2 linked regions of the Homo sapiens genome follow. The protein of the gene in region 1 interacts with the protein of each later gene in a pairwise test. Each region holds a gene or a part of one and is shown on either strand. Other genes may lie near its edges.

Region 1 (3,820 bases):
CCCAGGCTGAAGCGCAGTGGCATGATCTCAGCTCACTGCAACCTCCACCTCCCAGGTTTAGCAATTTTTATGCCTCAGCCTCCTGAGTAGCTGGGATTATAGGCATGCACCACCATGCCCAGGTAATACATTAATTATTTTAATCTTTCAATAAGTCTATAAAATAGAAGCTATTTGTTATTATCACCATTTTACAGATGAGAAAACTAAGGCACAGAGAGTAACTTCCCCAATGCTATACACATAGTAAGTCACCAACCTGGTATTCGAGCCCAGGCAGGCTAGCTTCAAAGCCTGAGTTCTCAAACCACAGCTATGTGTCTCATAATGGAACAATGCAGACAGGACTGGTGATATTTAAAAGCTGACTGAGCTTAAAATGTATGATATGCCATACTATAGTCATCAACAGCCAGAATTCTTAAGCCAAGTAATGAGAACATACGAGAAGATGGCAAGTCTTCTTCTTTATCCTTTACCATTCTCATTTTTTTTCCCCAGGCCTCCCAAGTATGAGTATGAGTTAACACAAGTGAAGTGCTTTAAATAGTGCCTGGCACATAGTAAGTGCTCACTAAGTGTTAAGAGCAGGTAGTGGTATAAAAATAGTAGAGTATGTCTGCTGACCCTGTTTCACTCTACCAGCTAGGATAGGCAAGGAACTGTTGATATTTCTACGCCCTTTCCCCCTTTGTGATTACAGGAAACGAATTGGGACAATACATAAATGTAATCCACTGTCGCAAACCCTAATTACTCTTCAGTCATGTTATTTCACCTGACCATATACACATGAGCAAACTGCTTCATTCCTCAGTCCTCTTTTTTTGGTTTACAAAGACTGGACTTGGGCCAGAAGAGAGCAGAATAAAGCAGCTTTGTAACCTTTTGACTAGTTGCCAAGAACAGAAGCAAGGTTTGTGAAAACCAACTGAAAGGACCTAAACTTTGGACTGTTAGATGGAAACTAGCAAAGGATTCTAACGATAGAAGCTCAGCATACAACCGAGCATTTTCAACCTCACGATTCCAAAATAAGTTTTTAAAATAATGTGCCTAGAAATGGTAAAGAACAGGGATGACAGTAATGGTAATCAGGGCAACAGGACCTCCCTCTCTCAATGATTGTTCTGCAGCTATTTAGGTTAAGTTTTACAGAATCCATCCACGTACATTGCAGAGAAAAAAACTAGCAAACCTAAACATTTTCTTTTTTTTTTTTTTGGTAGAGACAGGGTCTCGCTATGTTGCCCAGGCTAGTCTTGAACTCCTGGGCTTAAGTGATCCTCCTACTTCAGCCTCCCAAAGTGCTGGGATTACAGGCATGAGCCACCACACCTGGCCCCAAACCTAAACATTTTCCATTACAAAAAGACAATATTAGGGGAAAGATCTAGCAGTCACTAAAATTTTGCAAACTGCAGGTACATTGCATTAACTACGGAAACTAAAGAAAAAATTCAATTTCACCTAAAAGCTAATCATTCTAATGTATTCCCGTAGTAACGGCACTGATATCAACTTAGTGAATGGAAACCAGCAGTTTGTTTTAAATTAAAAACAATAAAACAAATAGAGGCCAGGCACAGTGGCTCACACCTATAATTCCAGCACTTTGGGAGGCTGAGGCAGGAGGATCACTTGAGCCCAGGAGTTCAAGACCAGCCTGGGCAATACAGTGAAACCGCATCTATAAAACACAAAACAAACAAACAAAAAAAATTAGTGAGGCATGGTGGCACACACCTGTAGTCTCAGCTGCTTGGGAGGCTGAGGCAGGAGGATCACCTGAGCCCAGGAGGTCGAGGCTGCAGTGAGCCGTGATAGCGTCACTACGCTTCAGCCCAGGTGATACAGGGTGAGATCCTGTCTCAAAAAACAAACAAACAAACAAAATAGAATAGAAAATATTAATATTACAATGCATCACCAGTAGTAAAGATACTGTTTCAAGAAACTTCTGTTTCGATTTCAAATATTAATATGTACATATATGTGTCTGAGTACTGGATAGCAATGTAAAATGTATTTTATAGTGGGTCATGATCAGAAAAGTTTAAAAGCCACTTTATCAGAAAAAAAAAAAAAATGGCCAGTCAAAAAGGGAAGAAAATAACCACTTCATACTACAGAGGAAACAACATTCAGAGTTTGATGGTTCTCTTTTTTGTTTGTTTGTTTTGAGACGGAGTTTCGCTCTTGTTGCCCAGGCTGGAGTGCAATAGCGTGGTCTCGGCTCACTGCAACCTCCGCCTCCTGGGTTTAAGCGATTCTCCTGCCTCAGCCTCCCAAGTAGCTGGGATTATAGGCGCCTGCCACCATGCCTGGCTAATTTTGTATTTTTTTTTTTGGTAGAGACGGGGTTTCACCATGTTGGCTAGGCTGGTCTTGAACTCCTGCCTCTCAGGTGATCCTCCCGCCTCGGCCTCCCAAAGTGCTGGGATTACAGGCATGAGCCACTGCGCCCGGCCGATGGTTCTCTAAATTGTAGTTTTATATAAGCAAGCCTCTGAAAGAGAACAAAAAAGATAAAGGAAACCACTGAGTTACTTCCAAAAATTTTTTTTTGCACAGAATGTGAGGTACCTACAGTAAATAAATACATACTAACAAAAAATACATAGAAATGAAAGCAAAAATTTTCAGTTTATCTACCTATTAAATGCCCCACTAAATATGAGAGATGGCCTATTCTCTTTGTGAAGCTCTAGTTCTCACTCTCAAGAATATTATTCATTAGTGTTGCCTAACTACTGCTTCCTAACCTATAGCAGAAGAACACCTGGTGAAAAGCAAAAGCAGATTTCAAAAATTATTCTTTAAATTATCACAGATGTTTCCTAAATTTGACATTTTTAAATTTAAAAGAGAAAAATTCAGTGATGTAATAAAACACTGATTTTTATAAGATATTTAGGTACTATTTTTTATCCTATAATGTTCTCTAAAGTCTGAAATATTCCCCCAAAATTCATACATGTATATATTGGATTATTCTTTTGGTAAAGAGAGTGAGATTATCACATTCATTTCATCAATCTACTAGGAAAAAATTAACATCATTGTGCTAAATTAAATGTTCCTCTTATTTTGAAAAGGGGGAGGGGCACAACAGGTGAAGCTGACCTAAATCGTTTTCAGTCACTATGGAAACTAAAGAAAAAATTCAATTTCACCTAAAAGCTAATCATTCTAATGTATTCCCGTAGTAACGGTGCTGATAGCAACTACCTACCAATTTTCCTAAATTCAGTAATTGCTACAATATTAAATTTCAGGTGAAAGAAAACTATTGAAATGTTTAAATACACTGATTATCAGACCCACATTGCTTTGAATGTGGAAGCCATTAAATTAAATTAAATTGCAGAAGCAATTTAAAAGGGAATTGCTTTGAATCAAAAATTAAATGTTTAACTAAAAGTAAAGAACATTCTAAATATCAACAAGTATTATCATCATAGCAAAGCTTACTCTGTTCAGCTCCATAACAATACTTTCCCACCAAGTGGAAAAAGGACAAAAGCTACTATAAAAAAACAGTATACTTAATGTCTCAATTAATAAGAGTTAACATGAGAATTAAAATTAGTATTCCTAATCAAATGTCACTTCTTACCAGAAATATTTATACTTTTTCTGTAAACCAGATTCTACGATTCTCGACTGTTTTCAAAATATTCAGAAAAATAATATCATTATCTGAGTACAAGACTCCTGCATTAAGGTGCACCTCAACTTATATAAAATAATCTCCTTCCCCCAGATATTTGATTAAATTTTTTTATTTGGGCTTAATAAAGGAACAAAAGAATCATCT
Region 2 (3,820 bases), on another chromosome or scaffold:
CCTCATTAGCTCCTGGTGGTCATTTCTGTGGGTCCTTAGGTTCACAGCCACTCTTCTTAGGATGGCATAAACTGTGCTCCAAGGAGCTACCTGCTGGAGCTTTAATAAAGCGGCCTCCCAAATGCACAAAGTAAAGAAAGAATCACTCTCCTAGAGAGCAATGCTGATGCTTTTCATGGGCTGCCTCTGTCTAATTTTACAGCCCTCAGTTATGAGTGACTTCATTGAAAGGCATCCCCTCACAAAGCATCACCCACAGGTAGAGGAGCACTTCCAACGTGGTCTTGGCTTGGCTGTCAATAAAGGGTTTGGGTGTTTCTTGGTTAACTCATTCAACACTGTGGTCTAGCCTGACCAACAGGCAGTGAATAGAAGGCTCTGAGGAGAGTTGCACTGGAGTTCCAACTCATCCTGATGCATTGCTGCCGTTTTTACCTTGCAATTAGAGCACCTAACTCAATCCTTGCTGTTCCCCTAGTGAGAAATGAGCATCAGCCCGCTGCTGCTGGGACTTTCTAAAGTTCCCCTACTAAGTTGCAGTCGAGGACTCGCTCCTTTCAGCTTCACTGGGCTTAGCATTTGTTCAGTTAGCAATAAATGGCCCTTGATACCAGAAAAAATGAGTGAGATTTTAAACCATTTATTTTTGGTTAACTAATGTCAAGAGACACCTCACCTAGTTTTTGGAAAGTAAATGCAAGTGGCAAGTGTGTGTGAGTTTGTGTGTGTGCACGTGTTCATGGATTCCTATTATTATCCTATTTCCATCAGTGGCCCTGCTCCTGCCCAGAGACTAACATAAGCTCCTTTACCATGGAAAATTGTTTTTGCACATGCAGTTTAGGGTGTAATGAGTGCAAAAAAGAAAGTTGTTATGTGGATTGGGATGAGGTGGGGAAAGGGGTGGGAGACAACAAAAGCAATGTTAGCTCATAGACATCAACACAAGCACAGAACCACAGGGTCAAGAGTCCTTCAGCCCTAAGAGAAATCACTCCTGCCCCATGACTCCCCAGTGAGACTCCCTATGGCCCTGAGTCTCTTATTTCTGGACACACAGTGATGGTCATCTGGATATAACGAACTAGGGAGCCCCAGACAGAGTCCATTGAATCCCGAAAGCCTAATGGGCTCCGTGGGCACTGGTCAAACTATGGCAAAGATGATGTTCGATGGGAAAGGGGCAGGGCCCACGTGCACATCCCCCAAGACACAAGCAGGAGAGCCACAAAGCCAGCCAGCTTACTGCCATCGTAGTTCAGCGTAGCGAAGTTGGCCTGCTTCTCCGCGCAGCCCGCACTGTTGCACACCCGCATCTGCAGCTCATACCAGGTGGCTTCCTGCAGGTCATACAGGATGTAGGACTTGGAGAGAGAGGTCCTCTGAGCTGTGGTCCAAACTGTGGTCCCAAAGGGCCTGTACTCTAGTGTGAAGGAGGTGATGGGGCAGCCGCCATCATTCCAGCCAATGAGGTTCAGCCTCACGCGTGTGGTGTTGATGCTGGCAAACAGCTCCTGCTCCTTTGAGAACTGGGGCTCTGGGGGAGAAGGCACATGGAGGTCAGCTCACAGGACACATGGGGAGGCCATCAGCATCTTCACGCATTTCCCTCGGACTGCTTCCTCCAGCGAGGCCAGGAGCTCAGTCCAAGTCTGGCTCACAGGCCACTGGCAACTTGTCCCCTGTTAATAGAGACTTTATGGACCAACAGGCTTTCTCCAACTGTAATGACCTGGGTGTGTGACAGAAAATTGCATGGGTGGAGGTTATTTTGGGGTATCTTAGAGTTCCCTAAAGAACAATAGGATGTTCACATATGGGTTTCCTTCTGTGGTTTGCGGGGCAGTGTGCTGGGCACTTTTTCCATCCTCATGTGATGAACCTGATTCAAGAGAAGACAGAGTTGGATTTGGGAAGCACCAACAGATTTTCCTCCACAACTAAACACTTGGTCTTGGTGCCCAGGGACCTAAAGGATATATTTCTGCATAAATCAATCCCCGATCATTTGACCTCTTACCACTTGTTACCCAAAACTGTGGCACCAGGCACAAATAATACCCTTGCTATCTCATTACTCGCTCTCCTGCCATCTGACCCCACCCCACCTGGTAGGACTCCTATGGGAGGGAAGCCTGCAAAGACATCTCCTCACCTTCTTCCTATGCCCACATAGAGCTGCATCATCCCTCCTTCCTTCTGGAGTTCCTGGGACAAAACCTCTTTCTCTGAATATGATTTCTTTGGGATTCATCTCCTTGAAAGTCCACATTTTAGATTAAAAAAAAAACAAACGCAATTTACCCCATCATTTTCCCTCTGAAAAGCGGTGGCTATGTGGCAATGTGGAAATGATAGGAAGGTGGGAGCAAGGGTGGCTAAGGGAGAAGGGCGCCTCCAAACGGCTGAGAGGGCAAGCGCCACGCTTCATGGCTGCCCAGCCTTGGCACCTCACATTCACACCAACGCCCTTGATTTTCAAACTGACATTCTTCTTTTTAACTGCAAATGAAACAATAAAAGAGAGGACCAGAACACTCTGGAAGGTCCAGCTGTCCCTCTCATTATGCCGTGGCACTGCTGAAGCCATGTGAGGAATGACAAAGTTCAAACACATAAACGTAAAACATGATGGATCTTTTATGATTCCAATCTCCTCTTCTGGCCGGGAAAAGAAAGGATATTAAGAAGCGATGAGAAGGCATACCTACCTTTTCCTAAGGTCTTTGCTTCTATGATTTCACTTATGCGCCCTGGGCCCACTCCATTTTGGGCTGTCAGTGTGAACTTATACCAAGTCCCACATTTGAGATTTTCCAAGCGATAGGAACGTTCGCTGGGGCTGATTGGAAAACTCCCCCACTGCTCACTATTGTCCTCGGAGTACTGCAGTATGTATCCTGCAGAGAATGAGAAAGATTCACATGAGCACTGTGTTTGCTTTCTATGGGAAGTGGACTGATGCTTGCATTTTGTGTGGGTAATAGAACGAGCATTCTCAGAACTGAAGAATCTTCAGAAGGAACATTTTCGCTCTTTCTGATTCCAGGAAATGTAACCCAGCCTGGGAGAAGCACCATGATGTATTGATTAGTGAGTCATTTGGGCCACACCAGACATTATCACTGTGAAGTATTGCTGTTTTCTGCTCATTCTCTTCTAAAAGCCATATTGAGCAGCAGGGAATACTTAAGTTGCCAAATATCTGTCCCTCAGATCATACATGCCTGAATCCTTGAGTGAAGACATAGGCTGAAGCTGTTATTTTTGCAAGACACTCGAATCTCTGGGAAAGGGATACATTATCAATGGGAGTAGAGATTTCTTCAACTGCCTCACTCCTCATGTACTCCTGGTCTCACAGTTCACAGACACTAGGAGAAACAGCTCCAAGTCTTGCAGCCATCCCACTATTCTGACAGTAACCTGGCTTCTCTTTGGTTTGAAAAATTCCTCCAACAATTCATTCCCCCACATGAGCACTACCTCTACTTTTACAACTAGTAAGGATGACTGTCCACTCTAGAGCACTCACTCCATGCCAAGCCCTGTCCTAAGCCCTTTGCTTACAGTATTTCTGCAACCCTATGGAACAGTGACGACTCTCCCACAGAACACGTGGGACACTGAAGTCCAGAGCAGTTAAGCGGTGAGTCCCAAGTGCTGAAAGGAGGATGCAGATCCTGCAGTCAGCCTGAAGCCCATGTTCTTCACCCCTGTGAATGCTGAAATATTCTTCCTGTTAACTCCTTCAGCCCTGTTATCTGCAGCCATGTTCCTTCTCCACCCTGGCTAGCTGGCCTGGAACATGGTGTGTTTG

What was found.
Region 2: the proteins of EYA3 (region 1) and DSCAM interact in a two-hybrid assay, tested with the Homo sapiens proteins (one large-scale study listed by BioGRID and IntAct).

What each region holds. Positions count from the first base shown.
Region 1 is NC_000001.11:28,078,586-28,082,405, forward strand, and holds part of EYA3 (protein phosphatase EYA3), read right to left. Parts: intron 1,867-3,820; exon of another isoform or gene 1,747-1,866; intron 1-1,746. UniProt on the Homo sapiens protein: Tyrosine phosphatase that specifically dephosphorylates 'Tyr-142' of histone H2AX (H2AXY142ph). 'Tyr-142' phosphorylation of histone H2AX plays a central role in DNA repair and acts as a mark that distinguishes between apoptotic and repair responses to genotoxic stress.
Region 2 is NC_000021.9:40,077,441-40,081,260, forward strand, and holds part of DSCAM (cell adhesion molecule DSCAM isoform CHD2-42 precursor), read right to left. Parts: intron 2,901-3,820; coding exon 2,712-2,900; intron 1,538-2,711; coding exon 1,247-1,537; intron 1-1,246. UniProt on the Homo sapiens protein: Cell adhesion molecule that plays a role in neuronal self-avoidance. Promotes repulsion between specific neuronal processes of either the same cell or the same subtype of cells.